Regions from separate parts of the Homo sapiens genome. Here regions 1, 2, 3, 4, 6 and 7 are each reported to be linked to region 5. Evidence: microRNA targets listed by miRTarBase, many of them from high-throughput screens and not tested one by one. Region 5 holds a microRNA gene; each other region holds the end of a gene's coding sequence.

Region 1 (4,079 bases), not on the chromosome of region 5:
CCTCCTGAGTAGCTGGGACTACAGGCACATGTCACCATGCGTGACTAATTTTTGTATTTTTAATAGAGACAGAGTTTCGCCATGTTGCCCAAGTTGATCTTGAACTCCTGGCCTCAAGTTATCCACCCACCTTGGCCTCCCAAGGTGCCAGGATTATGAGCTTGAGCCACCACGCCCGGCCTGTGTTTGGGTTTTCTTAGCCAGCCAAATACCTGTGACCTTGTGCAGGATTCTGTTTTATCCCAAAGGAATAATTTTGGACTTTAAAGTTTCAAACGCTAAGAAAAATTTTTCAAGTTTTTTTTTTTTTTACATAGATCTCATGGTTTCTGGCCTTTTTCTTCAAGGCAGCTTTCCACGGAGCAGGCTGTTCTGCAAGAGTCGCTGGAGAAGGAGTCGAAAGTCAACAAGCGACTCTCTATGGAAAACGAGGAGCTTCTGTGGAAACTGCACAATGGGGACCTGTGTAGCCCCAAGAGATCCCCCACATCCTCCGCCATCCCTTTGCAGTCACCAAGGAATTCGGGCTCCTTCCCTAGCCCCAGCATTTCACCCAGATGACACCTCCCCAAAGTCCACAGACTCTCTGAAAGCATTTTGATGCAGGTCTGCAGGACTGACCCCAAGGAGGAACGTGGGCACAAGAGGTATATCAGCACACGTGTGATCACCGTAGGGTAACTGGAGCGTCACCACCGGCGGAATCGCAGCTTCTGAGACTGGAACTCTGGAGGAAGACTTTTGCCTCCGTCCAAAAGATTCCTCCAAAAAAAGATTTAAAAAAAGATTTCGGCATCGACACGGACGTTGTTGCACAAAGCACTTAAAGAACGAGAGCATCTTGTTCATTGCCTTTTTCACCTAAGCATAGGGGGAAAAACTCTCAGGGCCCTATTAAGATTTATAACCTTTGTAATGTTCTTCACCACAGACACCTTCTTGTGAGTTTTCAGTCTGACTGTGGGGGTGGGGGGTGTGAATGAAATGGATGTCACAGAGTGTCATGTGTCTGATGCAGCCTCCTCTGCTGTGTATTAAATGTCAAAATCTGAATATATCTGGATATGTACTAATCAAATAATAATCAATCAATCAGCATATACATTTCAGCCAAAGCCATAGAAGAAAAAGCAATAGTTGCTTGAATTATGATCATCTACCACCAACTCTGCTCAGCCCTGTAACAGGGTAGGGAGAGGGTATAACAGGAAGAGCTTTGACTTGTCCCTGTCTATACATTCTCTGTATCTTTTGGGGGTAACTTCTTGGCAGTTTTTCAGTGTTCAGCCATGTCAGTTGAAACTAGATTTTTCTGTAGATTTTTTACTTACCCATGTGAGCCTAACACTATCCTGTAATTCATTTTCTCAGGCTATGTGTAAATGTAGAACCCTAATTTTTCTATAAAAAAACAAACTAACTAACTAACTGTGTAAAGAAAGAAAAAGGGAAGTACCAATGGGTTTTTCCACCTTATTTTTACCTTTGATCTACCCTTGCAGATTTAACCTGTCTTCTTCCCTCCCATTATTCTCATTTTCCTTTTACCTTTCTCCACCATCCAGAGCCACAAAAGCAAACCTTCTACCTCCTACCTACTTTTCTCTGGGACAAGGATAAAGGAATATGATTTTCCAGAGCCCCAGAGCCAGCTCATCTTCCAGGTGCTGAAACCACTTTCCAAATAAACTAAAGCCTGGATTTGATATTACAAATTTTGGGAAATCTTAGAATAAAGAACGAGAACAAGGAAGTCATTGGCTAGTATAATTAAGAAAGGTAGGATTCAGTGCTTACCGATGATGCAGTACTTGATAGAAGAAAACAGTCTGGGAGGATAGCGCTCATTTTTCAGTTACCCTTTAAGGAGTCCCTTTGTCTTTGGGAAAGTAGCAGAATGGTCCGCTTCTTTCCCATGAGTGGAAAATGTGGCTTGTCCAACTCTCCTCCAGGTTGCATTTCAGTTTCTTTCCAAAACTTATTACCTCCCCTAATCCTGAGACTTTGGAAAAGGTGGAAGGAAGAACTGTTGCTTTATCTCCCCCTCCCTGCATGTGTCAACATTGTGATGTCAGTATTTACTAATCTACATTCAGTGGCTGTACAAATAACAGCTGTAGTAAGAAGAGATTCAGGATGCTAGAGGTGAATATTTGGGTCATTTACATGTACACTACATAGCAAGTTGATACTCATGTTGCATGTTCTTTTAAATTAGTGATTTTGTGTCTTAAGTCTTTAACTTCCAATACTTCATCATGTATGTAACCTTCCATGTTTGCTTCTGATAAATGGAAATGTAGGTTCACTGCCACTTCATGAGATATCTCTGCTCACGCTTCCAAGTTGTTCTCAATGACATTAGCCAAAGTTGGGTTTGCCATTCATCCCCTAGGCATGGTAAATCTTGTGTTGTTCCCTGCTGTCCTCCGTATTACGTGACCGGCAAATAAATCTCATAGCAGTTAATATAAAACATCTTTGGAGGATGGGAGAGAACAGGAGGGAAGATGGGAAACAAAATAGAGAATTCTTAAGATTTTGTTTAAACCAAATGTTTCATGTAGAATGCAAAATGTTGGCACGTCAAAAATATGAATGTGTAGACAACTGTAGTTGTGCTCAGTTTGTAGTGATGGGAAGTGTATTTTACTCTGATCAAATAAATAATGCTGGAATACTCAAGAATTGCATCCTCTGACCTACTTCATTCTTCAAATTCTTCATTTTTACAGCCCTGTGACAGCACAGTAAAGGTCGTATCTCCTCTTAGTTTATATTTCCCAGGAATTTCCACTGCAACCGCAGAGTTGGTCATGGGCTCACAGAGCTAGAGTGAGAGGTAAGCTCTTCTTCTCTAAATTCAAAGCTATCTATGTTTGACAAATAAATTTTGGCTGGCTGTAACAATTTCTGCTGTATAAGAAAATTGGACAAACTTGGTAAATATTTTTGAATATCGTAAAAAATGTCTAAACAAAGTTGAATGTTCTTAATCTATGCATCTATTTCATATTGAAAGCTAAACTTCTAAAAACTTGTTCTAGTTATTGAATAGACTAATCTACAATTACACCTTTGAGTGCAGCAGTTTAAAAAAATGAAGTGTCCTTGAATTTTTTCAGTACCTTCATAAATTAACTCACATTTGTTAAAGTTGCTACTAAGACAAAATGACATTTCTAAGCATTTGAGTCTGGAGTTGTTGCTTGTGGGTAAGTAGTTGAACTGTATCTAGTACATTTTAAAATTCTAATATATTGCGGTGATATAAAAGAGAATACTTGGTATTGACCCACGTATCACCACCACCAAGTCTTTCTGGATGTATTTTAAGTCAACTTAACTTAAAAAACACTTATCCCACTTTTTATTTTTTACAAAAACGTGCTCATTTAATAGAAATGATTGATTATATAAAATTGTTTACACATGTATAAAAACTAGGAACACGTATGTAGGTAAGCAATCAAAATCATGCTTTCTGTTAGAAAAGTTAACACTTCTGTGAATAGACTGGATGACTTCCTTTTAGTTTGGATGTCTGGGTCGGACTCACGAGACGCTGGGGTTGGGGTGTGGTGCTTGACATCAGCCTCTGGCAAAGCACTAATAAAAGGAACCCCAAAGCTGACTGTGTACACAAATGGGCTTTCCATAAGTTCATTACATTTCCTTTTCCAAGTCAGGAAAACTCAACAGTGGTAGCTACTGTGGTCTGTCCTTGAAGATTCTGAGCAGTGCAAATGTAATATCCTGCATCAATCGTCTCAAAGTCTTCCACTGTAATGACACTCTGGGAGATTCTCGTGGTGTGTCCCAGTCCTCTGTGGATCAACCTCCAAGTGTCTTGGATCGTCACAGGCCTTTCATCCTGTTTAACGACACCCACAAAGACTGAAGCAAGAGGGACAAGCTGCTATAAAGAGCTCCCACTCACCCAACACTGTTGAGCGTTCCTTTCAGAGAGCAAAGCACATGCTTATAAAAGACTGTTTAGTATGCGTAGCTCATAAGCTGTGGAAGCTTCTACACTGGAATCATTTTAGGTTGCATTTTTTCCAAACAGCCCTTGAATT
Region 2 (4,068 bases), not on the chromosome of region 5:
GACCTGGCTAAAAACAAAATTCCCAACAAACACACAAAAATCCCAAAACAAATGTATACGCTACGGTAAACAAAAAGGCATTTTGTTCAGATGTAAAATATGTTTTGTGAGATTATTGTCAAACAAATTTTCATGTATAAAAGACCCAAACATGTCATTCCCCCCAAAAATAAAAACCAACAAAAATAAAAATCATCAGGACGGAATGTCCCAAAGAAACAGGTATTTCAAGGCAGAAATCTGCAATCCTAAATTGCAGGACATTTGAGTGGAACCATTCATTTCCTTTCTAATCAGAGCATTTCTGTTTATCTGCACAGAAACCCAAGGCAGCAGAAAGGCTGTCTATTTACTCACTGATTGTGATTTGCCCAGGAAAGTTTGCTGGTTTGGACAGCAAGCAGATCCAATATGGTTGGCAATGTCTCTGTTCTGCTGGAAGAAACCCATAAACAGGAGAAAGGCTGACAAACCATGTTCCTTTATGTGAAGGGGGAAGAACTGGACCTTCTTGTGTTCTGAAATTTGGTACTGGGTGGGGGTATGTGCTATCTGCTTAAGAGAACACAGGAAAAGGAGGAGGGAGAAAGTGGGGTTTGGAAGATAGAGGAAGAGAGAAAAAAAGGGAGATATTGGGGGGAAGAGAGGGAGGGAAATGTATTTTCAGATAGTGAGAAAAAGAAAGAACTGAAATATGTATCCATGTTGAAATCATAAATAGGGACATGAGTAAGCAGTAGAAATGGCTTATTCAATACTTCTCCTGGACCAGACACATGCAGTTATTACATGATTGGCTTAAGGGTCTCATTGATACCTTAACTTTCCTGAGGGCAATGAATAAAAAGATACCTTAATCTACCTGAAGTCAATGAATGCAATTTTTCACACACACACACACACACGCACACACACACACATACAAAAATGTGTTGCGTGAGACCTATCGCCAAAACAACTACAGTTTGATTTTTTTTGAAACAATTAAATACTATATATGCTGGTAAGAGTCTGTGAAACTCTAAATGACCAATCCAGTGAGCCTACAATAGTGACAAGCCCCCTCCACACATGGCTTTGAGAGTAAAGGTTCAATGTAAAAGATTATCTAATCAGAGCATGAGGCTGGTTTTGAGTTGGAATATCTTCAGTTAACAGAATTAAACTGAAAAACATAATTTTTTCCTTCATTTTTCTCCAGCATTTTTGCAGGTCAGACATGGTAACATGTGCTGAAAAAAAACATTTACGTTTAATTTGGGGGAAATGGGCTAATGGTGCTTTTCAGAAATTAAATTTTTACATTTGCTGACATTTTATGGTAATTTAGCTGCAAAAATGTAATACGGAATAATATATGAAACTGAGTTGTGGAGGGAATCCTGTCAAAAATGAAAGTGAATATATTCTGAGTTTGTCCGAGATCTGCTATAGCTCTTCTCTAGATAAGAACGACCTGACAACATAAGCTGCTTTACTCTTTAACTCTTACCAAAGTGCTACTGCATGTGTGTAAAACAAATAATCAATATATATATAAGAAAACTCAAAAACAAGTTGTTTTAAATAAGTCCAGCTGTTTTTGCTGCCTGCAGCCAAAGATTTGCCTAATTTGAATGCTTAAATTTATAAAATAAAAATCAAACACTGTTCTGAAGTCCTGCTTTCAAATACTCTTCAGAGTTGACCTGAAATCGTTTCAACGAATTTTAAGAGGTACGTTAAATAACCACCAGATCATTTGGAGCACACATGTGTCAAAATCAGCAGTTAGTATTTATGAGTTGTACAACAACTGCATTCTGACCAAATCCTCCAATAAAAATAGTGCCATAAAATTTACAGCGACATTGGATACCTTTGAATTGTAGCCACGGACAGTAGTGACATGAATCTTTCCTGTCACACTGGTGCACAGGTAAAAGCCCATATACCCCATAGGGTAGGGTCTCAGCCTGGTGAAAGCAACACAAAGATGTTGTTGAGTGAGCAGCACAGGACAGGGGGTCTCGCACAGGTGGGACCATGTTTTCCCACTTGTCTCCACTGAGGCACACAGAGGCAAATTGACTCCTCGAGGCCTGCTTCTGGTGGGCCCTTAAATTGCTATAATCGTAACCCCTAAATTCATTGATTTGGTTCCTATGTAAATGTGGCTCCCCTACACAGTTTACTTTGGCTGTGTTCTGTTACACAGCATCTGTGAAATTATCAGATGACCTTGGGGTGAGCAAATCCCTGGGCAGAAATCAAATCCTCTCCAAAGATGTAATTATTGGCACCTGCCTCAACCCTCTGGAACTAGATTGACCTTCTCTGTTTTAAGGAGGAAGTTAGATATGAGACCCTTGTTGAGCCTGGCAGAAAATTCCATACTTCTGATCCTTGGAGTGACCCTCAGTGTCTAAAAATCCTATTAAAAACGTTGCTGCGTGAGCTACTCACTTGTTTGATTAACATGAAAGGGAGTTTAATGTAAACAATACTTCTGGATAACCAAGCGATCACATTACTCATTCTTTTTTTCTAGCCTTCTTCAATGTGATACATTTAACTTTGGCTACTATCAAGAACAAAAGAAAATGTAGTACTTGATATTTTTCTTAATATAAGTACATTTAAATAATTAAAAAATTATCAACACATAAATGTCTGAACATCAAGATACATAAATATCTGGGGATTCCTTGTGGGAATACAGTAGTTAAAAATGACCCAAAGCTGTAGCTGTTTCTCAAAAAAACAAAACAAAACAAAAAAAAACAACTACCCAAAAGTCCAAAAGAAAAGTTAAATAAAACTTAAAGAAAAGGGAATCATATTTCTTTCCATGGTCAAAGCAAGAAAGAAGCAAGCTCAATTTATATATATTTATATAAACGTATATAAAAATAAAAACCACCCAAATGCAAATACGCATTTTGCAATTGATAAGGTGCGGAAAAATTAAAAATAAGAATTAGATGCCAAACAGGGCGAGTTGCATCCCTCCTCTCCCCCCACCCCAACCAAAATTCCACACTCTTTGGAATAAACAACTTGGTTAAAAAGTTAAGTCAAGGGTATAAAATCTTTCTTTTTATTCACAGCATTGCTAAATCAGAAGCATTCACAGTTTCCCTCCGGGAATCTTCCTGTTTGCTTTCCAGCGCGTCCCCTGGGTGCTGGGGCCGGCGGACACCCTCGAGGTGCGTCGCCTCGGACACCTCCGCGAGGGCCGGGGCGCCAGCAGACGGCGGCGGCGTGGGCTTCTGGGCGCAGGAGGCTGCGCGGGCCTGACCTACAGCGAGATCCTGGCCGTCGGGCGCCCTCGGCCCCAGGACGGTGGCCGGGCCCAGGGCCCGGGATCCCGGCGGGCTTGTCGCGAACAGGAGGCCCGCGCGCCCGGAGGCGAAGGCGGCGGCCCGCGGGGCCCAGCCGGGCCAGGCCTGGCGCCTCAGTAGGGCCTCCACACGGCCTCCTCCAGGCGCGCGGAGGGCGCCATGTTGGTGGGGGAGTTGCTGTGGCTGCCCTCGGCCTCCACCACGTCGCTCTGGTTCGGGAGGCTGGGGTTGAGCAGCGCGGAGCCGGTGGAGGCGTTGGTGCAGGGCGGCAGGATGCGCGGCGGCGAGCGCTCGCCGCCCACCATGGAGAACTGGTAGGAGCCGGCCGAGGCGCCGTAGTACAGGTGGTAGGAGGGCGAGCTGGCTTGGAACGGGCCTCCCTGCGCTTGCGACGAGCCGGGGTAGGGCGGCGGCAGGTAGGTGTGGTAGCGCGTGGCCGAGCCCATGGCCGACATGCCGATGCCGATGCCCGAGGTGACCGGCGTCGGGGAGTAGGTGAAGGCGCCTGGATAGTGCATGCGGGGGTCGGAGATGGAGGGCAGCGCGGGGAACTGGCGCGGGTCGCTGAACGCTGTCAGGTCGGGTGCCGCTGCAGGGCGGGCAAGAGAACGGAGCGGAAGTGAGTAGGAGGTTGCGGAGGCCACAGCTCTTCCCTCTGCCCCAGGGGGCTACCCAGGATGATACCGCCTAGGAGGATGGGAAGCCACCCAGGATGCTACTGCTGGGGAGGACGGGGACCACCCGG
Region 3 (4,079 bases), not on the chromosome of region 5:
AAGTTTGAGGCTGTTAAAATGGTACAGTATAAGCATTACTGTATTCATTTCTGCCTGTCAAAGTAGGCAGGACATCAAAAACAGGAAGAACTTGTTCTAAACCAGCTTACTAATGATAAAAGTTTGACTTTTTCTGGCATTTAAGAAAAGAAAAAAAAAGTGGGATAGCTGGACAATGGTAGGAAGGAGGGAATTTGGGCATGCAACATAGGGTGTTTAACTCCTGGTATGTTATTTTACCATTTATACTGTCCTTCATTTTACTACACTAACAGGAACTGAAAATCTAAAAAAAAAATCTAATACATTACCTGTCATAATGACATTCTAAAAAAATTTTTAGCAGGTCACTATTTTGACAGATACTTATTTTTTTTCTTTCAGATCTTTCCTCGGATCCAGATGAATTAACAAATGTTGCTGTAAAATTTCCAGAAATTACTTATTCTTTGGATCAGAAGCTTCATTCCATTATAAACTACCCTAAAGTTTCTGCTTCTGTCCACCAGTATAATAAAGAGCAGTTTATCAAGTGGAAACAAAGTATAGGACAGAATTATTCAAACGTTATAGCAAATCTTAGGTGGCACCAAGACTGGCAGAAGGAACCAAGGAAGTATGAAAATGCAATTGATCAGTGGCTTAAAACCCATATGAATCCAAGAGCAGTTTGAACAAAAAGTTTAAAAATAGTGTTCTAGAGATACATATAAATATATTACAAGATCATAATTATGTATTTTAAATGAAACAGTTTTAATAATTACCAAGTTTTGGCCGGGCACAGTGGCTCACACCTGTAATCCCAGGACTTTGGGAGGCTGAGGAAAGCAGATCACAAGGTCAAGAGATTGAGACCATCCTGGCCAACATGGTGAAACCCTGTCTCTACTAAAAATACAAAAATTAGCTGGGCGCGGTGGTGCACACCTATAGTCTCAGCTACTCAGAGGCTGAGGCAGGAGGATCGCTTGAACCCGGGAGGCAGCAGTTGCAGTGAGCTGAGATTGCGCCACTGTACTCCAGCCTGGCAACAGAGTGAGACTGTGTCGCAAAAAAATAAAAATAAAATAATAATAATTACCAATTTTTCATTATTTTGTAAGAATGTAGTGTATTTTAAGATAAAATGCCAATGATTATAAAATCACATATTTTCAAAAATGGTTATTATTTAGGCCTTTGTACAATTTCTAACAATTTAGTGGAAGTATCAAAAGAATTGAAGCAAATACTGTAACAGTTATGTTCCTTTAAATAATAGAGAATATAAAATATTGTAATAATATGTATCATAAAATAGTTGTATGTGAGCATTTGATGGTGCTCGATGAGTTACTTGTATTTGATGGGATTGTTTGGATGTATTTAATGGGAGTATTTGGAGTATTTAACGGGATGTAAACCCTGGATGTACCTGATTTTGTTACTGTTTTATTTTAATAGGTAATATATATACAGGGTAAAAGCTTCAAATGGTACAAAAGGGTTAACAGTGATCGTGAAGTCTCTGTCCTTTCCCTCTTCCCTGCCATCCAGTTCCCCCTCCAAGAAGCAAGTACCGAAACCACCTGCTTACGCATTTTTAGAGATTGGCCACAAATTTATAAACAAATGTATATATTCCTTTCCCCCTACACAAACGGTAACATACTGCACACATTGTTCTGCATGTTGCTTCTTTTTCCTTTTTTTTTTCACTTAACAGTAGATATCTAGAGGTGAAATTACTGAGTCAAGACTATATTTAGCAAAATTACACTAGATACTACAAATTACCTCTAAAGAAGGTATACTAACTGATAATCTCACCATCAATGCATGTCTTCTTATCCTTTGCCAACCTAACAGATAAAAATGTTCTATTTTTATTTTTCTTTTTATGAGTAACGTAGAGCATATTTTCATGTATTTAACAGCCACTGGAATCTGCTTTACCATGGCCTTTCCTATTTCTATTCTTTGCCTATTTTTCTGTTGGTTGTTGGTCTTTGTTTTGTATTACAGGTGTGCTTTAGATATTAGCTTTTTGTAAGAGATCCTGCAAATATCTTCTTTCCAGTTTGTCATTGTCATTTGTCTTTTGACTTTGTTCTGGTATTTTTTGATATGTAGAAATTTTTATTTTCATGTAAGCAAATTTATGAATCTTTGTACACCATAAGTATATACAATTATGATTTGTCAATTAAAAATATTAGTACAAAATTTACAGATCTTTGCTTTTGTGGCTTTTGGGATTTTGTATCATATTTAGAATGGCCTTCTCCACTTGTCATTTTTTTTTTTGAGACGGAGTCTCGCTCTGTCACCCAGACTGGAGTGCAATGGTGCAATCCCGGTTTCAAGTGATTCTCCTGCCTCAGCCTCCCAAGTAGCTGGATTACAGGCACCCGCCACCACACCCAGCTAATTTTTTGTATTTTTAGTAGAGATGGGGTTTCACCGTGTTAGCCAGGATGGTCTTGATCTCCTGACCTGGTGATCTGCCCACCTAGGCCTCCCAAAGTGCTGGGATTACAGGCGTGAGCCACTGCGCCTGGCCTCCACTTGTCTTCTTTTATAATTTTATTTTTCACCTTTGGATCTTTGACCCAGCTGGAATGTATTAAACATATTAGAAATCTAACTTTGGTTGTTTTTTTAAATATGCCTACCCATTGATCTTTTATTGAGTAAACTGTCTCTTCTCCCATTCGTAAAAATGTCACTTCATCATATAATACCTTTGGTTGAGTACATTATCTTTTCCTCCATTGATTTGCGATGCCATTTTTATCTATACCAAAGTCCCATTTATACTTATGCCATTTCTGAACATTTTATTTTCCACTGGACCATTCTATTTTCTTTGTTTCTGTTTTGTTTTTTGTTTTTTTGAGACAGGGTCTTCCCTTGTCACTCAGGCTGGAGTGCAGTGGCACAATCACTGCTCACTGCAGCCTCAATCTCATAGGCTCAGGTGATCCTCGCACCTCAGCCTCCCTAGTAGCTGGGACCGCAGGCACGCGCCACAAAACTCAGCTAATTTTTTAAATTTTTATAGAGACAGGGTTTCACTGCATTGCCCAGACTGGTCTTAAAGTCCTGCACTCAAGCAACCTGACTGTCTCAGCCTCGCAAAGTGCTGGGATTACAGGCATGAGCCACCACACCCAGCCAGACCAGTCTATTTTATTAGTCTGGTAGACAGTATCTGGTAGGACTAGTCCCTTTGCAATAGTTTTCTTTTTTCAGAATTGTCCTTCCTAGCAACTCTTGATTTTTCCATACAAATTTAGAATAAGTTTGTGTAGTAACAAAAATGAAAAGTCCTGTTGGCTTTTAAATGAAATCATTAAATGTATAACCTACTTTAGAGAGAATTTAATTCTTTATGATAGTTATTCTAAATAATTAGCATGTTTTTCCCTTTATTCAAGTCTTCTTTTATATCCCTCAGTAGTAGTCTAAGTTTTCTTCATATAGATCAATTTGTCCGGAAAAATTTTTGAAAAGCAGAGACTTTAAAAAATACCCCCCTAGGCTCTACACTACACCACTTGATTAGAGCTTCTGAGACAGCCTGGGCCTGCTGTGCTATTATTGTTGTCTTGCTGGTCAATCCCTCCAGCCATGATTCTAATATGTAGCCAGAGGTGGGTTTATTTCCAGTTGTTTTATCAGTTATTGTGATTTTAAGTGAATCTTCCTTCCATTATATCCTCTAAGAGAAGATCTTCTTGTTTATATGTGCACTCCATTTCCATATATTTATTTTATGCTGAATCACTTCATAGTGAGTAATAGTTTTTCAAGTGATATATTATTTTCCAAGTAAAAATCTTACCTGCAAATAATTTTACCCAACTTAATACTTCTTCAAACTGTCTTTGAAGTTTTCTTCATGAGTAAGTTCATCTCCTTTATTTATTTGTTTATCGTTCTTCAGTGAATTTATATGAGCTTACCTTTGCAATTATGAATTTCTGAGAAATGATTTTACTTTTGAATATATCTGATTTTTATTACATATGTATATACACATGCATACACAAACACACATATTCTGAAGTGAAACCCTTAAAAAGAAAGACTGA
Region 4 (4,079 bases), not on the chromosome of region 5:
CTTGACGAAACTGATTTACACTAAAATGAATATGAGGCTGAGACAGATACCAGAATGCCACTTCTGTTAATTCATGCCTGTCTCCCTTAGATGCTAAGCCTCATGAGGACAAAACAAAAAAAACCAAACAAACCCAGCCTAACCCCCAGGGAGGGAAGAGGGGAGACACATATGCAGCTCCACAATGTAATTCATGTAATCCATCCCAGCACTAGGATTTAAGAATGCATGTTTAGTATATTCCATCCCATTAAGGCAGTGGTTCCATTTTTTTCTGCATCCACCTCAAGTCAGTAGCATCTCACGGCTATAAGAACACCTACCCAAGACATAACTAGGTTGCTTTGCTTATGTACAATAACATGAGAAATTAGAAAAGCTGTTTTAAAATACCAGGAGGCATCTACCTTACAGTAGATTACTTGTCAATGGCCTCAATATCTGAAGATTTTAAGTTACAATCCCTGCATCCCTCTCCAAACTAAAAGCCAGAATGCTTGAACCTGAAAGAATTCCTCTCCCCTAAACAATGCTTGATTGGAGACTGACAATGTTCATCTAATACCTTCTAGTTGACATTACTGATCTATCTGGTCAACCATGTTGTAGTATATATATTTGCTATGAAATTCCCAGTGGAGCATGAGATACATGCTAATCCACACATTTTACAGATGAAAGGATTGAGATGTCCAAGGAATCTGCAACTTGCCTAATATCAATCAGCAAATGGCAGAGCCAGGTTTGTACATTCTTGCTGGCCTGGGAGCCACTGCTTCTCAGGTGACTCAATCTTTACCTTGGTATGTCAATCTTATAGCAAAACTTCAAAAAGGCAATGTTACTTCCTTTGCTTCTTGATTTTATCAGAAACCTTATTGCTGCTAAGTTCTGAAAACTGCCCACCTTACAAATGAGGAAATCAGAGTGTAGAGAAAGTAAGGATTTTTTTCTCTCTCTTTTTTTTTTTTTTTTTTTTTGAGACGGAGTCTCGCTCTGTCACCAGGCTGGAGTGCAATGGCGCGATCTCAGCTCACTGCAACCTCCACCTCCCAGGTTCAAGCGATTCTCCTGCCTTATCCTCCCCAGTAGCTGGGACTACAGGCGCACGCCACCACGCTCAGCTAATTTTTGTATTTTTAGTAGAGACGGGGTTTCACCATGTTGGCCAAGATGGTCTTGATCTCTTGACCTCGTGATCCGTCTGCCTCGGCCTCCCAAAGTGCTGGGATGACAGGCCTGAGCCACTGCACCCGGCCAATTTTTTCAACGTTACACACCCAGCTAAGATGAACCTAGAACTAGAGTCAAATCTCAAACGTTCTAGACTAGAATTCTTCCCACCAGGCCATTGTCTTTACCTTTGTAAGCCTTTAAATCTTGTCCTTATAGAAAACTTCTGCTTAAATAGGCTCCGAATGCCTCAGTCCACACTCTGACTGGGTTAACATAGGGTCTTGTTTCCCAACTCAAGGGACAGAAATGTTTCTGTGTTAGAAGAACTGTGATTCTTTCTAGCAGAAATTAGCAGAGTAAGTGTTTTTGGAACAATTGCTAATGAGAAGGAAATCTGAATAGTTTCCTGAAGTATAAAATCTCAAGTGTTTGTTTAGGGTACAAACTGCTATGTAAACAACACAGAAATCTCAGTAGCTTAAAAAAAAAGATTCCTTGATCATGTCATAGTCCAGTGTAGGTGAGCTGGGGCGAGGAGGGAAGTGTACATGGGGAGCCATCCTGGGACTGAGGCTTCACTAGTCTAATAGAAGGGCTGATGGCCAAAAACTAGGCTAAGAACTGCTGAGCTAGTGGCTTCACCTTCCCTAGGGCCTTGTAATCTTCCATCAGTTCCTTTGCATCCCATAGGCTGAGGAGGGAAGAAACAGCATGAATGATCTTTTGGAAAGTGGTAGAGGGCCACCTAGAAGTGACTTACATCAATCGCTTCTCTCCACAGTCCATTGATATGGACCCCGTCAAACTGCAGCAAAAACTGGGAAATACAGTCTCTCTGGGTGCCCGGGAGGAAAAGGAAGTGGGTTTGGTGAACACATAGCATTATTTCTGCTACACTGTCAAACACATTATTTATTAGATTGTATCAATACTACTGTTAGTATTATTAGTATTGGATTGTACCAATAGTATTATTAGTATTGGATTGTACCAATAGTATTATTAGTATTGGATTGGATTAGTATTGGACTGGATTAGTATTTATTAGATTGTACCAAATACTAAATGAAACAATGATACTAAATGCTACAAATACTGCAAATTTGTAAAAATACAAATACTATTAAAAATGACACAAATATTATACAAATACTACAAATAGAAATGTTATAATAGAAATACTAAACGATACAATGAACCAAATGATACAAATATTAAACTGTATGGTGATAACCAATATTAAATGACTGAGTGATATACAACACTAAATGGTACAGTGATACAAATACTAAATGATACACTGACACTAAACAATACAATGATAACAGATACTCAGCATCTGTTCATGTACAAAGCATCTCCTTGATCTTCAGCCTGAGAGGAAGAACTGCCTGCACTGAGAGAACTGCAGAGATGGCTGGCTGCAGGGTGGCTGCAGGGATTGACTCTCTGCTCCACCCATAAAAAGATGGTTACAGGTGCAACATCACTGGCAAGAAGAGATGAAGAGATAGGATGGAGCCTGTGTTAGAGAAGGTAGTAACTGGTTCTCCCATCATCAGCTAAGAAGAGAAAGGCAACACAGAACTTTTTGAGCTTTTTTTTCCTTTTTTTGAGACAGGGTCTCACTGTATTGCCCAGGCTGGAAAACAGTGGCACAATCACAGCTCACTGCAGCCTCAACCTCCTGGACTCAAGGGATCCTCCTGCCTCAGCCTCCCAAGTAGCTAGGACTACAGGTGTGCACTACCACGCCTAGCTCATTTTTTTATTCTTCATAGAGATGGGGTCTTACTATGTTGCCCAGGCTGGTCTTGAACTACTGGCTTCAAGCCATCCTCCTGCCTTGGCCTCCCAAAGTGTCGGGATTACAGGCATGAGCCACCACACCTGGCCCGCTTTTTGAACTTTACTGAAGCTTATATACAATTCTGCCAGAGTTGTTTTCCAAAATCATCCAACTCTAAAACATATTCTTTTATCTAAAAAAATCAATTGGTTTCCATACCACTCATTAAATAAATTATTAACATAATTGGTTAACTAATTGGTTAACACAACCCCTCCTCAATTCTGGGGATAAGATTATGCCTCATTTTGAGGAAGGTGAAAGGCTTGACGGTGAAATTGAAATGCAAAGAACAGAGTTCAAGGCTCATGGTTAGGTTGTTATTCCCAGATCCTAATACAAACCAGCAATGGTGCTATTCTGAGCCCTTATCCACAGGAGGTTAGATGCCAAAAAGGACTCTGAGGTCAGCCAAGGTGAGCTTGGTGACAGATTCTCCAGACCCTGATAGAACTTGTTTGGCCAAATCTTTCTTTTTTTCTTGGAGCTGTAAGATCTTTTCTTCTACTGTTCCCTCACAAACAAATCTAAAAAACAAAAACAAAAAATAAGCAAACTATCAAAAACCCTAAGCAGCACATCTAATAATATATTCAAACTTTTATTATGCTTTCATTTTTAATGAGATTTCTTCCTTTAAGTCTTCTTAGGTCCAGTTAAGAACCCTGTCTGAGGAATCCAAACAACCTTGACTAGATATATATCCCTTTAAAAGGATGTGACCCACATTGGCATTTTAATACTTTCTGAAGCTAAGGTAATTGAAACAAACTCAAAATAAGCAAAAGATATCCCAATCCAAAAAAGTATAGAGATCCAGCTTTTACCCAAAAAGTTCTACCTTGGTAAGTCCATAAGGCCTCAAAGGTTATCAAATTTCTGCTAGTTTAAGTAGAGTATTTCTTAGTGAATTCACAATAAAAACAGGGTTTTCAAACCAAGTAAATGGCACTGTTGTCATTCATTCACTCATTCAAAAGTATTGATTAAGCACTCACTACACTATGCTAGGTGTGGGGATGGAGAGATGAATATAGTCTTGCTCCAAAGCAGA
Region 5 (4,000 bases):
AGTTCACAATAATCTCCACATCTTGGGTTCCCCCAAATCTTCGTCCCTCCATCTGCTCTTCTTCTGCCTGGGGTCAGGAGAGGATGGGTCTAGCTTCTCTGGCAGACTGGGAATCCTTGGAGTCTTCCGTATCCAGTGTTGCCAGGCAAAACAGGCTGAATGAAGCTGGGTGGGTTTGTTGAGTGAATTGAATTGAATTAATGATTCAATTGAATGGAATGATTGAATTGAATTAATGGTTCAATTGAATTGAGTGATTGAATTAAAGTAATGATTTGATTGAATTAACGATCCAGTTGGGTGGTTGATTGAATTAATGGTTCAATAGCATTGACTGATTAAATTAATGATTGAATTGCTGTATTGGATTGACACTACCTCTTCTCATCCACTCCAGGAATACAACCAAAAAATATAACATCATGGCTTTTAATGCAGCCGACAAAGTCAACTTTGCTACGTGGAATCAGGTAAGTCTCTGAGTCCTGGGGGTCAGGGGCTGGGGTGGTGAGAGAACTTGACCCTGACCTTGGTGGTTGTGATAGTTGCTTAACTGTCATAGTCACTAAGTCTTAATTTTCTCACTTTTCTCCAAGTGAAGAAAAGATAGATGACAAAGGGTTGGGTGCAGTAGTTCACACCTGTAATCCCAGCACTTTGGGAGGCTGAGGCAGGAAGCTTGCTTAAGGCCAGGAGTTTGAGACCAGCCTGGGCAATACAATAGCAAGACCCCAACTCTACAAAAAAATTAAAAAGTTAGTTGGGGCTGATAGCGTGGGTCTGTAGTCCTACATAGGAGGCTGAGGTAGGAGGATCGCTTGAGCCCAGGGGTTCAAGGCTGCAGTGAGCTATGATTGTACGACTGCACTCCAGCCTGGATAACAGAGCAAGACCCTGCCTCAAAAAAAAAAAAAAAAAAAAAAAAAAAAAAACGGAAATGGCAAAGGCCCAGGCCTAGCTCCTGGGTGTCCCTGTAAGTTAGGTTTGGTAGGCCCACCAGAGGCCTCTCCTTAAAGGAGAACATTTAGAAGCTGTGCCCACTGTTGGACATTTTTGGCCATGGTTTATCTGGGCAAGGGAGGGGACTGGGCTGGGGGCTTTCCCAGAGCCCCTGCCATCAGAGGCTCTAGAAAGGACTTTGGGAGCCATTAAAGCATCTTCAATTGGGAAGTTGTAGTGTGTGTGATCTGGCTGCTATGGGGAGACAAACTGTGGGTTTGAGGGCAAATAAACGGAGACCAAGGTAGAAGCAACTGGACTGGTCTAGGTGAGTCCTGGCAGGGCACTGGAGGCAGTGGAGGTTATGAGATGTGGCTGATTCTAGAGTGTTTTGGAAATGGTATATATGGACCTTAAATCAAGAGCTTAAGGGTAATTCGGATCACATTAGCCATGTAGGTCACGATAAATTGTTAATTTGTAGAGATTTTGGTGCCTTAATGTCAGCAAGTGTTGCACAATGAGTTTCTTTTTATTTATTTTATTTTATTTTTTTGTGATGGAGTCTCTTGTCATCCAGGCTGGAGTGCAGTGGCGCGACCTGGGCTCACTGCAACCTCCACCTCCCAGGTTCAAGCCATTCTCCTGCCTCAGCCTCCCAAGTAGCTGGGATTACAGGCGCCCACCACCACGCCTAGCTAATTTTTGTATTTTTAGTAGAGACGAAGTTTCGCCATGTTGGTCAGGCTGGTCTTGAACTCCTGACCTCAAGTGATCCACCCGCCTCAGCCTTCCACCATGCCCAGCCTTTTTATTTTTAGGAAATAGATATAGGATCTCACTATGTTGCCCAGGCTGGTCTTTTTTTTTTTTTTTTTTTTTTTTGGGGACTGAGTCTTGCTTTGTCGCCCAGACTGGAGTGCAGCGCCAGGATCTCGGCTCACTGCAAGCTCCGCCTCCCGGGTTCACGCCATTCTCCTGCCTCAGCCTCCCAAGTAGCTGGGATTATAGGCGCCTGCCATCATGCCCGGCTTATTTTTTGTATTTTTAGTAGAGACGGGGTTTCACCGTGTTAGCCAGGATGGTCTCAATCTCCTGACCTCGTGATCCACCTGCCTTGGCCTCCCGAAGTGCTGGGATTACAGGCGTGAGCCACCGCGCCTGGCCTTTTTTTTCTTAAGACAGAGTGTCACTCTATCACCCAGGCTGGAGTGCAGTGGCATGATCTCGGCTCACTGCAACCTCCGCCTCCCAGGTTCAAGCCATTCTGATGCCAGGCTGGTCTTAAACTCCTGAGCTCAAGTGATCCTTCTGCCTTGGCCTCCCAAAGTTCTGGGATTACAGGTGTGAGCCACAGCACAATGAGTTTCGATATGCATGCATTCTGGAGAGATGTGTGGAAATTCTAGGTACTTAGACATTTTTTGAAAAGAATCCTGGAACCAGATGCCTGCTGTAGATAATAGGGAAGTCTAATTAATTACTTCTACATTCCTCAGATAAGGAATTTTGCCTCCGATGGCCTGCTTGATGGTCACCAGGTGGTCTTTTTCTCTTTAATTTTAATTTGGAAATAATTTCAAGCTTTTAAGTTGCAAAAATAGAGCGCAAGGCTCGCCCAAATTCCCTTTACCCAGATTTGTCAAAGGCTACCGTTCTCCTCCCTTGTTGCCAAGTGGTAAGTTGGTTTTGAGAATCTAGAGCTTGGCCTAGGGCAAGGAAGGGCGTTCCTGGAGGGGGGCACTGCGCAAGCAAAGCCAGGGACCCTGAGAGGCTTTGCTTCCTGCTCCCCTAGGCTCGGCTGGAGCGGGACTTGAGCAACAAGAAAATCTACCAAGAGGAGGAGATGCCCGAATCGGGCGCGGGCAGTGAGTTCAACCGCAAGCTTCGGGAGGAGGCTCGGAGGAAGAAGTACGGCATCGTCCTCAAGGAGTTCCGGCCCGAGGACCAGCCCTGGCTGCTCCGGGTCAACGGCAAATCAGGCAGGAAGTAAGTGGTGGGGCGGTGGCGGTGCCGGCTTAGTGACCAGTCCACATCCCCAGGCCTCAACTTACATACTTTGTGGGGTACCCTCTCTGAACCTCAGATTCCCACTGCTGCAGTGGAAGTGCTGGCACTTCCATCCCTGTAGGATTTTATTATTTATTTATTTATTTATTTATTTATGTTATCTTATTTTACTTACTTGTATTTTTTTGAGACAGAGTCTTGCTCTGTCGCCCAGGCTGGAGTGCAGTAGCACGATCTTGGCTCACTGCAACCCACACCTCCCAGGTTCAAGTTATTCTCCTGCCTGAGCCTCCTGAGTAGCTGGGATTACAGGTGCCTGCCACCACCACGCCCAGCTAATTTTTGTATTTTTAGTAGAGACAGGGTTTCACCATATTGGTCAGGCTGGTCTCGAACTTGGCGATCCTCCCGCCTCGGCCTCCCGTAGTGCTGGGATTACAGGCGTGAGCCACCGTGCCCAGCCTACTTATTTATTTTGAGACAGGGTCTCACTCCGTTGCCCAGGCTGGAGTGCAGTGGTGCGATCGTAGCTCACTGCAGGCTCCAACTCCTGGGCTCGAGATCTTCCCACCTCAGCATCCTGAGTAGCTGGGACTATAGGCACGCCCCACCATGCCTGGCTAATTTTTGTATTTTTGGTAGAGATGGGGTCTTGCTGCGTTGCTCAAGCTGGTCTTGAACTCCTGGGGTCAAGTGATCCTCCTACCTTGGTCTCCCAAAGTGCTGGGATTATAGGTATGAGCCACTGCCCAGGCCCTGGGGTTGTGTTTTTGAAGACAGTTCACTGAGTTGGTGCTTGTGCCTGGCTCTGAGGCAGCTCTGAGTGCCACAATGCAGGAAGCTTAGGTGGCCAGCCCTGGGAGCTCATGACACTTGAGATGACCTCTCAGAGGGGGCAGACTGAGGGCAGAACAGGAGGGGTCCAGGTTAGGTTGATGAAGGGTGCTCCAGGCACAGCAGTTGGGTGATAGTGACAGACACAGGCAGCTCACACAGGGCAGTGGGTGCCAGGATGTGCTGGGTCCAGCGGAGCCTTGGAAAGCTGTAGGCA
Region 6 (4,079 bases), not on the chromosome of region 5:
ACCTCTGTAGCAACTCTGGAGACCTATTTCTGCAAAGTTCCCTGGGAATTCCTCTAGGAAGGGAGAAAAAGAGACGAGGGTTTGTCTGAGGGTGACCAGAGATAACTGGCCCAAAGTGATGTGATTCAGATATGAGGGCTCTTCTAAAAAGGAATTTTCTTGGCCCAAATCTTGACCAAACTAAACTTTGATATCCTCTGGCCTAGCATGGAGGAAGCTTCTGCAATGGGGACAAGTCTCTGAGGCGCAGGAGAGAGCAGAGGGAAGCAAGGAGAAGTCAGGTTCTCATTAGGATGCCTCTGCCACAGATTTTTCTCCTTCTTTATTTTTTGAGCATCCAGTCCTACCCTAAACCTGGTGGGATTCCATCTTAATCTATCAAGCAATGTAATATTAGATTGACGCAAAAGTAATTGGGATTTTTGCTATCATTTTTAATGGCAAAAACCGCAATTACTTTTGCACCAACCTATATATGCCTATTTAGGCATGCTTATTTATGCATATTTAGCCACTCAGCCTATGGCTGAGTGGACTATGTCAGAGAACTGAACCCAAGTTCTAGAGAGATCTGTCCCAAGTCAGCGGACAGCCAATATACAAGGAACCTCGCAGACAGACATACAGATGCAGAGATACCCCATCACATACATGTTAACCAGTTTGGACAATTTGAATGAAGCCTGTGGTCACCAGGGATATGGGAGCAATTCTAATCAGGATTGTTAGATTATCTCTAGAAGGTTGCTTCTGATAGCTTGGACAAGATGATGGCGGTGGGGGAGAAGCAGGGAATTCCTTGGCAGTAGGGAGGTTGAATACTTTCCTCATTGTGCTCTAGTAAACTGAGGAACTTCTAGCAGCAGGAGAAACATCTGTCCTTTAAAAGCCATGTATCCTGTTCAGAAAGGCTTGGCATTAATGGAGACCAAATTGTCCCACTAGAAAGGACATTGATGTCAAGGGGGCATTTGGTGTCTTTTCTGGTTCTAGTCCTATGCAAAAAAGCATATATCTTAAAATATATTAACTACATTTTGGCAAACAATAGTTCCTGGGAGGTTATTATAGTATTATGGTATGCCCCTATGGGAAACTTTTCTATTTTGTCAGGATTATAGTTTCTAAAAGTTCCTCTCCAAGTATTTAGGTTGCTGGCCTGGCTTGTAGAGAACAACTTGAGTTCACCATCCTTGGTCATCACAGAAGGAGAGAGCAGGGCACAGTTCTGCTTCGGATGTCACAGGGCCAGGGATTTGTCCCAGATGTTGTAAGAAAGATTCAGGGGACACAGGTTCAAGTACTTCAGGTCTAGCAAAGTTTCTGAAGACTCTTTTGGTTGACTAGCTCAGGGAAGCACGAGTGAGGGATGCCTTCCTGGAAGATGACTTATTAGCCTCCTTCATTCCTTTCAGGCTTTCCAGGAGGATGGGCTGATAGAATACCGCTGGAGCTTGGGGCAAGGGAGGTGTGGAAAGCCCCTGTTTTAATTCTCCTCCTGGCCAGACTTATCAGCATGTTGGACTGTGCCTTGATGTTCTTCTCCTAAACTGCAGAGGTTCTCACCTATAGCTTTCTTGCTCTCTTAGTATCTCTTGCAACACACGCAGCAGGGCTTGAGCAGGAGTGGTTAACACAGCTTCCTTTCTTGATTCCCAAAGATCTTACTTTTCACATGACTGCCACCATGGCCACCATTGCTGATGTTTTATCTACACATTGTAAAGCAGGAGTCTCCTATTCAGGTGTTACCTGTGTAGTCTCTGTTTCAGAGCCTGCAATTTGCCCTACCGTGAGCATAGTTCAATCTGTACAGCAGATGGGTTTGGCTGCCTTCTATTTAGCTTATCCACTAGCACATTCATGGATGCTGAATTCCAGGGCCCCACTACCCAGCCTTCTGAGGCATTCTCTTCCCCAAGCACTTGAGAAAGCACTGGAAAGAGAACTGTGTTAGGGTTGAGCCCCAACCTTGCCACATAGCAAGTCATATCCAACCTTGAGACTTTTTTCCCCATCTGTAAAACAGGATTACTGATGTTTGATTTACCTCCTGCACAGGGATGTGAAAAGTCAAGGAGAATGATGCAAAAATACTCATGAACTATCCGGTGCTGAACAAATAGAGGGAAGATAATGATGCTGCTGACGAAACTGATGAAGAAGACCACGATGATGATAATTGTGCTTTGCTCGTAAAGTTACTTGATTTTTGACTGACTGATTAGATGCAGTTTCCCTGAATGGAGCTGCCTACCGCCTTCCTTCTAGGGCTTATCCAGACAACCTTGGGTAAGTCACTCAACTCTCTACGATTAATTCATCTGTCAAATGGGGATAATAAAAACCACCAGGCAGTGTTGCTGTGAGAATTGAAAGAAGTGAGTCAATAGATATAAAAGTGCCCAGAGGAGTGCCTGGACCTTATGAGGAACTTTGTCAGCTCTAGTTGAATTTGAATTTATATAACTCTAGAGGGAATGGTGATGTTCCCCAACTTGGATGGGGCAGTAGAAAGAGCACAGACTTTATCTTGCTCATAGTGGCATGTGACTTTAACCTCTCTGAGCCTTAGTTGCCTCATCCGTAAAATGGGAACAACAGCGTTCACCTCAAAAGATTTGTGTGTGTGTGTGTCAAAGGGAATGGTTTGTGCAGAGAGCTTTTCAAAGTACCTGACACTGGCAAGGGCTTAGTATTTAATAGCTCTCTCACCCTCATGCTTAACGTGGGTAAGTTGCTTAGAAGAAAATGCAAAGCCTCATATGGTCATAACTGTGCTGCCTTTGTCCCCTTTTAGCTCTGGGTGCTGCCAGGCTGTGGGTCTGTGGCCCACAGTGCACTTTCCTGGTGAGACCCTGTGGCATGAGCACTGTGGCAAGAACAGTCACATGATTAGGATCCCAAGGTGCCAGGACTCTTGCTGCCCCAGTTGCTGGGCCTCCTGCCTCTCTCTTCTGAAGCAAAACTTGAGTGAGAGGCAGGAGCAAGGGCATTGAAAGTGTCCATCCTCAGCCTGCTGCCTGGGACCTCACCAACTGGTGACATTTGGTCATATGGGGGCAGTCACTGGGAGGTGGTCTCACCTGGTAGCTGCTGGTGGAAGGAGGCCAGGGGCTGTCATAGAGGTGTTCTTACTCCCTGTAGGCAGTGGCTGGCATTGCTGAGAGCTGACAGTTTTGGTGTCAGGAGGTGAGGGGTAGGTTTGAGTTCTGTGCCACACCCCCTCTATACAAGTAAGTGACCAGGAACTGTTCACTCTTCTCAACACAGCACACTATGCATATTCTGGCCTCTGCCATGTGCAGACACCCTTCTTTGCCTACCTGACAAAGTAGATATTTCCTGATGACCCAGTTCACAAATCACTCTAATCTTATAATTCTCATGGACATTGCTAGATACAGATGATGGCTCCTCCTCTGGGCCTCCATAATGACGTGCTCAGAGTCCTGACATATAGTCTTAAAGGGAATAGTTTTTGGATCTCTCTCCTTGACCAGAGGGAAGTGCCTTGAGGGCAGGGACTGAGTCAGTTCATCTGATGTTCCCAATTCCTAGCGTGCCGCCTGGCCCAAAGCAGATGCTCATACAAAATGAGTGTCCCCACCTTGCTTGAACCATGACTGAGGCAGCCAGGTCACCATGGAACCAGAGTGAGCAGTCAGGGAGGGCGTCTGGTGGCCAGCAGCTGTGGCGGTCAGCAGCATGGAGGGATGAGAGGCAGGCATGTCAGATCTCTTCCTCTTCACTGGCCTTGCTCCAGCGGTGGCAGCAGTTGGCAGTGATGCCCAGGAGGAAGTTGGTGGCCACAGAAGCAATGGAGACCACGAAGCCCACGAACGCAATGAATAGGTAATCATCCAGGGTCAGGGTCAGGTGGCAGGCCTTGAAGCTCTCCTCAGTGAGTGAGAAGAGCGGGGCGCCCTCGACTTCAGGAGGGCCCCGGCACTCAGCCAGCTGAGAATCTGTAACACAGAAGCCAGGGAGGGTGAGGTACCCAGGGAAGGAGAGGGGATTGGAAAGTCCACCCACAACCGCTTGCTGGAAAAAGTAAGAAAGACATTCATTGAAGTTCT
Region 7 (4,079 bases), not on the chromosome of region 5:
CAATGAGTTCTGGGTTGCAAAAGAGGATTTATTTTTTGCACCTGTCTATAAATCTTTGTCCACAAGTTAAACAAAAATATAAACAAGTGTAGCTGGACCTCCGTTTTGAAAGTTTCAGAATGTTCCTCAACTTGTATCTCAATCTGCCTCTAGGCAGCATTTCCACTATAGGTTATTCCCCCCTTGAAAACCTTAACTGCCTAGGGTTCTGTGATTTCACTCTTTGTTTTCTTCCTAACTTTCAGGCTCCCCCTTCTACATCATCTTTTGGGGTTCCTCTTCTGTTATTTGTCTCATTGGATTCTTCTGGGGTTACTCTTCTCTTCTGAGAATAAAAACTCTCCACATTCCTAGGAAAAGGCTGACAGTCCTATGGTCGTGATAATAAGTACATACCTTGAACTGTTTTAAACTTTTTTCATTGATCAACGACAACTTGCTTCAGTGAACACACTTCTGAAAGCTCATTGTCAGTGACAGCCTTATGCTTTGATTATGCCAATCAGCTTTGAATTCATTTCAGTGTACACACTTCTAAATTGTCATTAACCAATTCCCACCTCTGTAACCAACACAACTCCCTCAAAATGTGTTCCCCAAATGCTGTGTAAGTTCAACACTTCACTCTGGTGAAGGAGCTTATGATGGACCAGCATGGCTTTCCTGTTCTTAAGAAAGCAATCATTTCAGCATTTTGGTTTTAGACACTGAGTGATAGTTTCATCCTTTGACAATGATCTTTTTTTCTCCTTCCTCTGGTGCTGCCACCCATCCCAACAACAAGGTTTATGATCTGGACAAAAGTGTTGGTTCTGGACCTCTGTTTCAGGAAGAATACTGGTTGAGGAACCCAGGCTGATCCTCCCACTGAAAACAGTGAAAAAAACTTACTTAAAATATACAACAAAACTTTTAAAGCATCTTTAACCTTGCAAGAAAGTAAGGCCAAGAATATCAAAACCGTCTGGGTGCGGTGGCTCACACCTGTAATCCCAGCACTTTGGGAGGCCAAGGCGGGTGGATCACGAGGTCAGGAGTTCGAGACCAGCCTGACCAACATGATGAAACCCTGTTTCTACTAAAAATACCAAAATTAGCCAGGCATGGTGGCGTGCACTGGCAATCCCAGCTACTCAGGAGGCTGAGGCAGTAGAATCGCTTGAACCTGGGAGGCGGAGGTTGCTGTGAGCCGAGATTGCGCCACTGTCCTCTAGCCTGGGCGACAGATTGAGACTCTGTCTCAAAAAATAAAAATAAATAAAAAAAGAAAAAAAGAAAAAAAAGAATATTAAAACCAAGTGCAAGTGGGCACTCTTTCACAGGCAGTAACTGACGCTAGCTTTTGTCACAAAGGTACTTGCTGAATCAGGTGAACTTGAGTTTTGGTTTCCATGGCTTTGGCCAAGGTGGGGGTAAGCAGGGGAGAGAAGGCAGTGACTAGGGTCTGAAAAAATATGCGAGTCTAATAGGAGACCCCTATATAAATCTCAGTCCTTAAAGTGTTATGTATGCTGTGTAAAAATAAAGCAGATACATAAAACATTCCTTTTCCTTCACCAGAGGTTTTCAAGGAAAATTGCCTGATTATGAACCTAAGTATTCAGTAAATAGAAAAAAAATCTTCACTGAGAATTTATAACCTCAAGGTAGATCTCATAAAGTCTCTCAGCCTGAATTCACAGTACATGGGTCGTATGAAAAAAAAAATCAAGTTTAAAGTTGTCCCAGACTAGTAGTGCCAAAAAGACAGAAGAAAACAAAGGAGTAGACCTTTAACTCAGGACTCAACTAGTTTACTCAACTAAACTTCTGAGGAAAATAAACAGAGCAGAGCCCCAAATCACAAAACACACAAGGAAATAAGGCACCATGAATTAAGGTCAGCAGAAATCAGTCTAGAGATTCAGACTTTCAAAGACTTCAAATTTCAGAATTATCAGGAATAACAAGTTTAAAAAAATAATGAGACAGAAATTTCCCGTCATGAATTAGGTATTATCTAACCCCTTGAATAATACAATTAGACCTGTGAAGAAGAATTCCAATGTTAGTTGAAAGTAATATGTTCAAAATTGGAACTTAGCAGGTCTGGCAAGCATAAACTGCAGAAGCAGGTGGTTCAGATGCCTATGGCACCCATTCCTGCTTTATTGCCTCTTCTTCATCACACACTAATGGTATCATGAGGGGTTCCTATGGTTACTTAATAAAGGAGGAAAAAGCAAGGCCAGGTTTGTGGAATGGTCTGCATGACATGCTAGCACCAGACAGAAGTGCTGCATTACAGCATGATATGGCAGTGGCCCAAAAGACAGTGGTTAAGGGAAAACCTTCCAGTAGAAGGAAGGCTTGGTATGGATCTATAGTAATTCATGAACGCTGGTAATAGATTGGCTGGTTGTTTAGGTACTTGGAAAGAGCAAGATTGGAAAATTTGTAAAATGAAGTCTGTTGTAGAGTTATGTGGATGGGATAGGATGTGAAGATTTTTTTTTTTTTTTTTTTTTTTGCTATCAGAGGGAGACAAATAAAGCTCTCAGTAATCAGGTAGATAAATGATCCATCCTTTCACCCACAATTGGGGGTCCATGATTACCCTTGGATGTCCATGTGTGATCAAGGCTTGGTCAAAAAGATGGGTCTACAGAGCCATAAAAGCTTTTCGACAGCATTTCAACCCCAAAGCCACTGGGGCAAAAAGGAGTCTTCATAGCTCACACCTGGGGCGGCCAATTTCCTACAGTGAGAGATAAAACCTGGCTCCAAGGCCATAGTTAGTAGGAGAATGAATGCTTTCACCTGAAGTGTCTCCTGTTCTAGAAAAAAAGCTTTTAGTGTCATAGTAGCTACTCTCACAGATGCAAAGATTTAGAATTTTGATCATGACCACTTATGCTGCCATGAAGACAGCTGTTGAGAAGACAGAACGATACATGAAGAAATTGTTGTTGGAATAGCTAACTAAGCTATTGAAGTTGTGCATAGGTCACTAGCAAACAAGAAATACTAAAAATAGGTTATAACTTGTTGTGGAAATAATGTGACATTTCAAGAAGAGCACTGAAGAGTTTATCATTGGAAATAGTGAAAATTTTAGACTTCTTTACACAGCTGTTTCTATTAATAGAATTACATATTGGTGGGGGGTGGGAGGGTCACTGTGGTGTTTTCAGTGCTTTATCTGTATGTGACTTAGTTTATCACTCTGAGGACAGGGGTGAGTGATAGCCGAGAGGAAGTCATGAGCTATGGTGAACATTTGGAAGAGAGGTCTCAGTTCCCCTTCCCGCCTCAGACTCTTCAACCATATCTTTCTTGCTGCTTACTTCAAAGTAGTCTGTCGTGAACCTTACTGTTAAAATATCATCAATAATTCCTGGTGTTGAGTCACTCAAGGGTGTGGGAGATGTCGCAGGAACTCGCCTGTGGTCTTCATTGGATGGAATGCAGCAAGCTCGAAGATTTTTGCATGTATCTTTCACTGCTTCTCCATCTTTGCATTGTTTCCTGCAGTGCCCTGATCTGTTCCAGCATTTTTTTTCACCACTATAGGCTGAATAATAAAAGGAAAGACCATTGATTTTGGGTTACTGATGCTCTCAATTTCACTAGCATGACTGTATATCTCGCATCCTATATCCACACTGTGGATCATAATTAGATGACAGCTGCAAGACTCCCACCTCAGGTCTGGCAAATACTCAACCTCCCATTTGTCAATTTTTAACTATTCTGAAAGTGGGATGAATCTTACGATCAATGAAAAGAAACTTTAGTCATGAGGAATTGGGGCCACTTATAATGAAGCTACCTGTACCCTGTGAGTAAAGGTACCTGAGTAAAGAAAGTACATCTTTTTTTTTAGATGGAGTCTCACTCTGTCACCAGGCTGGAGTGCAGTGGCATGATCTCAGCTCACTGCAACCTCCGCCTCCCTGGTTCAAGCGATTCTCTTGCCTCAGCCTCCTGAGTAGCTGGGACTACAGGCACGCGCCACCACACCCAGCTAATTTTTGTATTTTTAGTCAGATGGGGTTTCATCATGTTGGTCAGGATGGTCTCGATCTCTTGACCTCATG

The links. The annotated mature microRNA hsa-miR-6885-3p reads CUUUGCUUCCUGCUCCCCUAG and lies in region 5 at 2,714-2,734, shown strand. An mRNA with a match to its seed (bases 2 to 7 or 8) in the 3' UTR can be bound and repressed. Matches are read on the target gene's strand: a 7mer-m8 pairs with bases 2 to 8, a 7mer-A1 pairs with bases 2 to 7 and ends in A, and an 8mer does both.
Region 1: miRTarBase lists MTUS1 as a target of hsa-miR-6885-3p. Seed matches in the 3' UTR shown: 7mer-m8 at 1,574-1,580.
Region 2: miRTarBase lists RUNX1 as a target of hsa-miR-6885-3p. Seed matches in the 3' UTR shown: 7mer-m8 at 3,138-3,144 and 7mer-A1 at 1,581-1,587.
Region 3: miRTarBase lists ARSK as a target of hsa-miR-6885-3p. Seed matches in the 3' UTR shown: 7mer-m8 at 1,226-1,232, 7mer-A1 at 1,750-1,756 and 7mer-m8 at 2,134-2,140.
Region 4: miRTarBase lists TTF2 as a target of hsa-miR-6885-3p. Seed matches in the 3' UTR shown: 7mer-m8 at 850-856 and 7mer-m8 at 344-350.
Region 6: miRTarBase lists LRRC55 as a target of hsa-miR-6885-3p. Seed matches in the 3' UTR shown: 7mer-A1 at 421-427.
Region 7: the mRNA of DEFB118 is a reported target of hsa-miR-6885-3p. Seed matches in the 3' UTR shown: 7mer-A1 at 2,506-2,512.

Annotation. Positions count from the first base shown.
Region 1 is chr8:17,642,408-17,646,486 of GRCh38, reverse strand. MTUS1 (microtubule associated scaffold protein 1) reads left to right here. Exons shown (of 15, transcript NM_001363059.2): 15 at 348-2,685. The coding sequence ends at 561. PDGFRL (platelet derived growth factor receptor like) reads right to left here. Exons shown (of 6, transcript NM_001372073.1): 6 at 3,343-3,874. The coding sequence ends at 3,686. Among named protein-coding and RNA genes, the nearest start is that of MIR548V, 37 kb to the left of the region's middle.
Region 2 is chr21:34,788,699-34,792,766 of GRCh38, forward strand. RUNX1 (RUNX family transcription factor 1) reads right to left here. Exons shown (of 9, transcript NM_001754.5): 9 at 1-3,912. The coding sequence ends at 3,437. Among named protein-coding and RNA genes, the nearest start is that of LINC01426, 45 kb to the left of the region's middle.
Region 3 is chr5:95,602,853-95,606,931 of GRCh38, forward strand. It overlaps ARSK (arylsulfatase family member K), which reads left to right. Exons shown (of 8, transcript NM_198150.3): 8 at 385-2,250. The coding sequence ends at 674. Among named protein-coding and RNA genes, the nearest start is that of GPR150, 15 kb to the right of the region's middle.
Region 4 is chr1:117,100,853-117,104,931 of GRCh38, reverse strand. It overlaps TTF2 (transcription termination factor 2), which reads right to left. Exons shown (of 23, transcript NM_003594.4): 23 at 1-3,552. The coding sequence ends at 3,408. Among named protein-coding and RNA genes, the nearest start is that of MIR942, 8.2 kb to the right of the region's middle.
Region 5 is chr19:6,388,372-6,392,371 of GRCh38, reverse strand. MIR6885 (microRNA 6885) reads left to right here and starts at 2,669; the gene lies at 2,669-2,734. GTF2F1 (general transcription factor IIF subunit 1) reads left to right here. Exons shown (of 13, transcript NM_002096.3): 3 at 398-470; 4 at 2,735-2,928.
Region 6 is chr11:57,187,134-57,191,212 of GRCh38, reverse strand. It overlaps LRRC55 (leucine rich repeat containing 55), which reads right to left. Exons shown (of 2, transcript NM_001005210.4): 2 at 1-3,968. The coding sequence ends at 3,733. It overlaps LOC105369309 (a long non-coding RNA gene), which reads left to right. Exons shown (of 7, transcript XR_007062670.1): 4 at 2,062-2,292. Among named protein-coding and RNA genes, the nearest start is that of LRRC55, 7.2 kb to the right of the region's middle.
Region 7 is chr20:31,372,331-31,376,409 of GRCh38, reverse strand. It overlaps DEFB118 (defensin beta 118), which reads right to left. Exons shown (of 2, transcript NM_054112.3): 2 at 2,487-3,553. The coding sequence ends at 3,240. LOC124900462 (small nucleolar RNA SNORA40) reads right to left here and starts at 91; the gene lies at 1-91.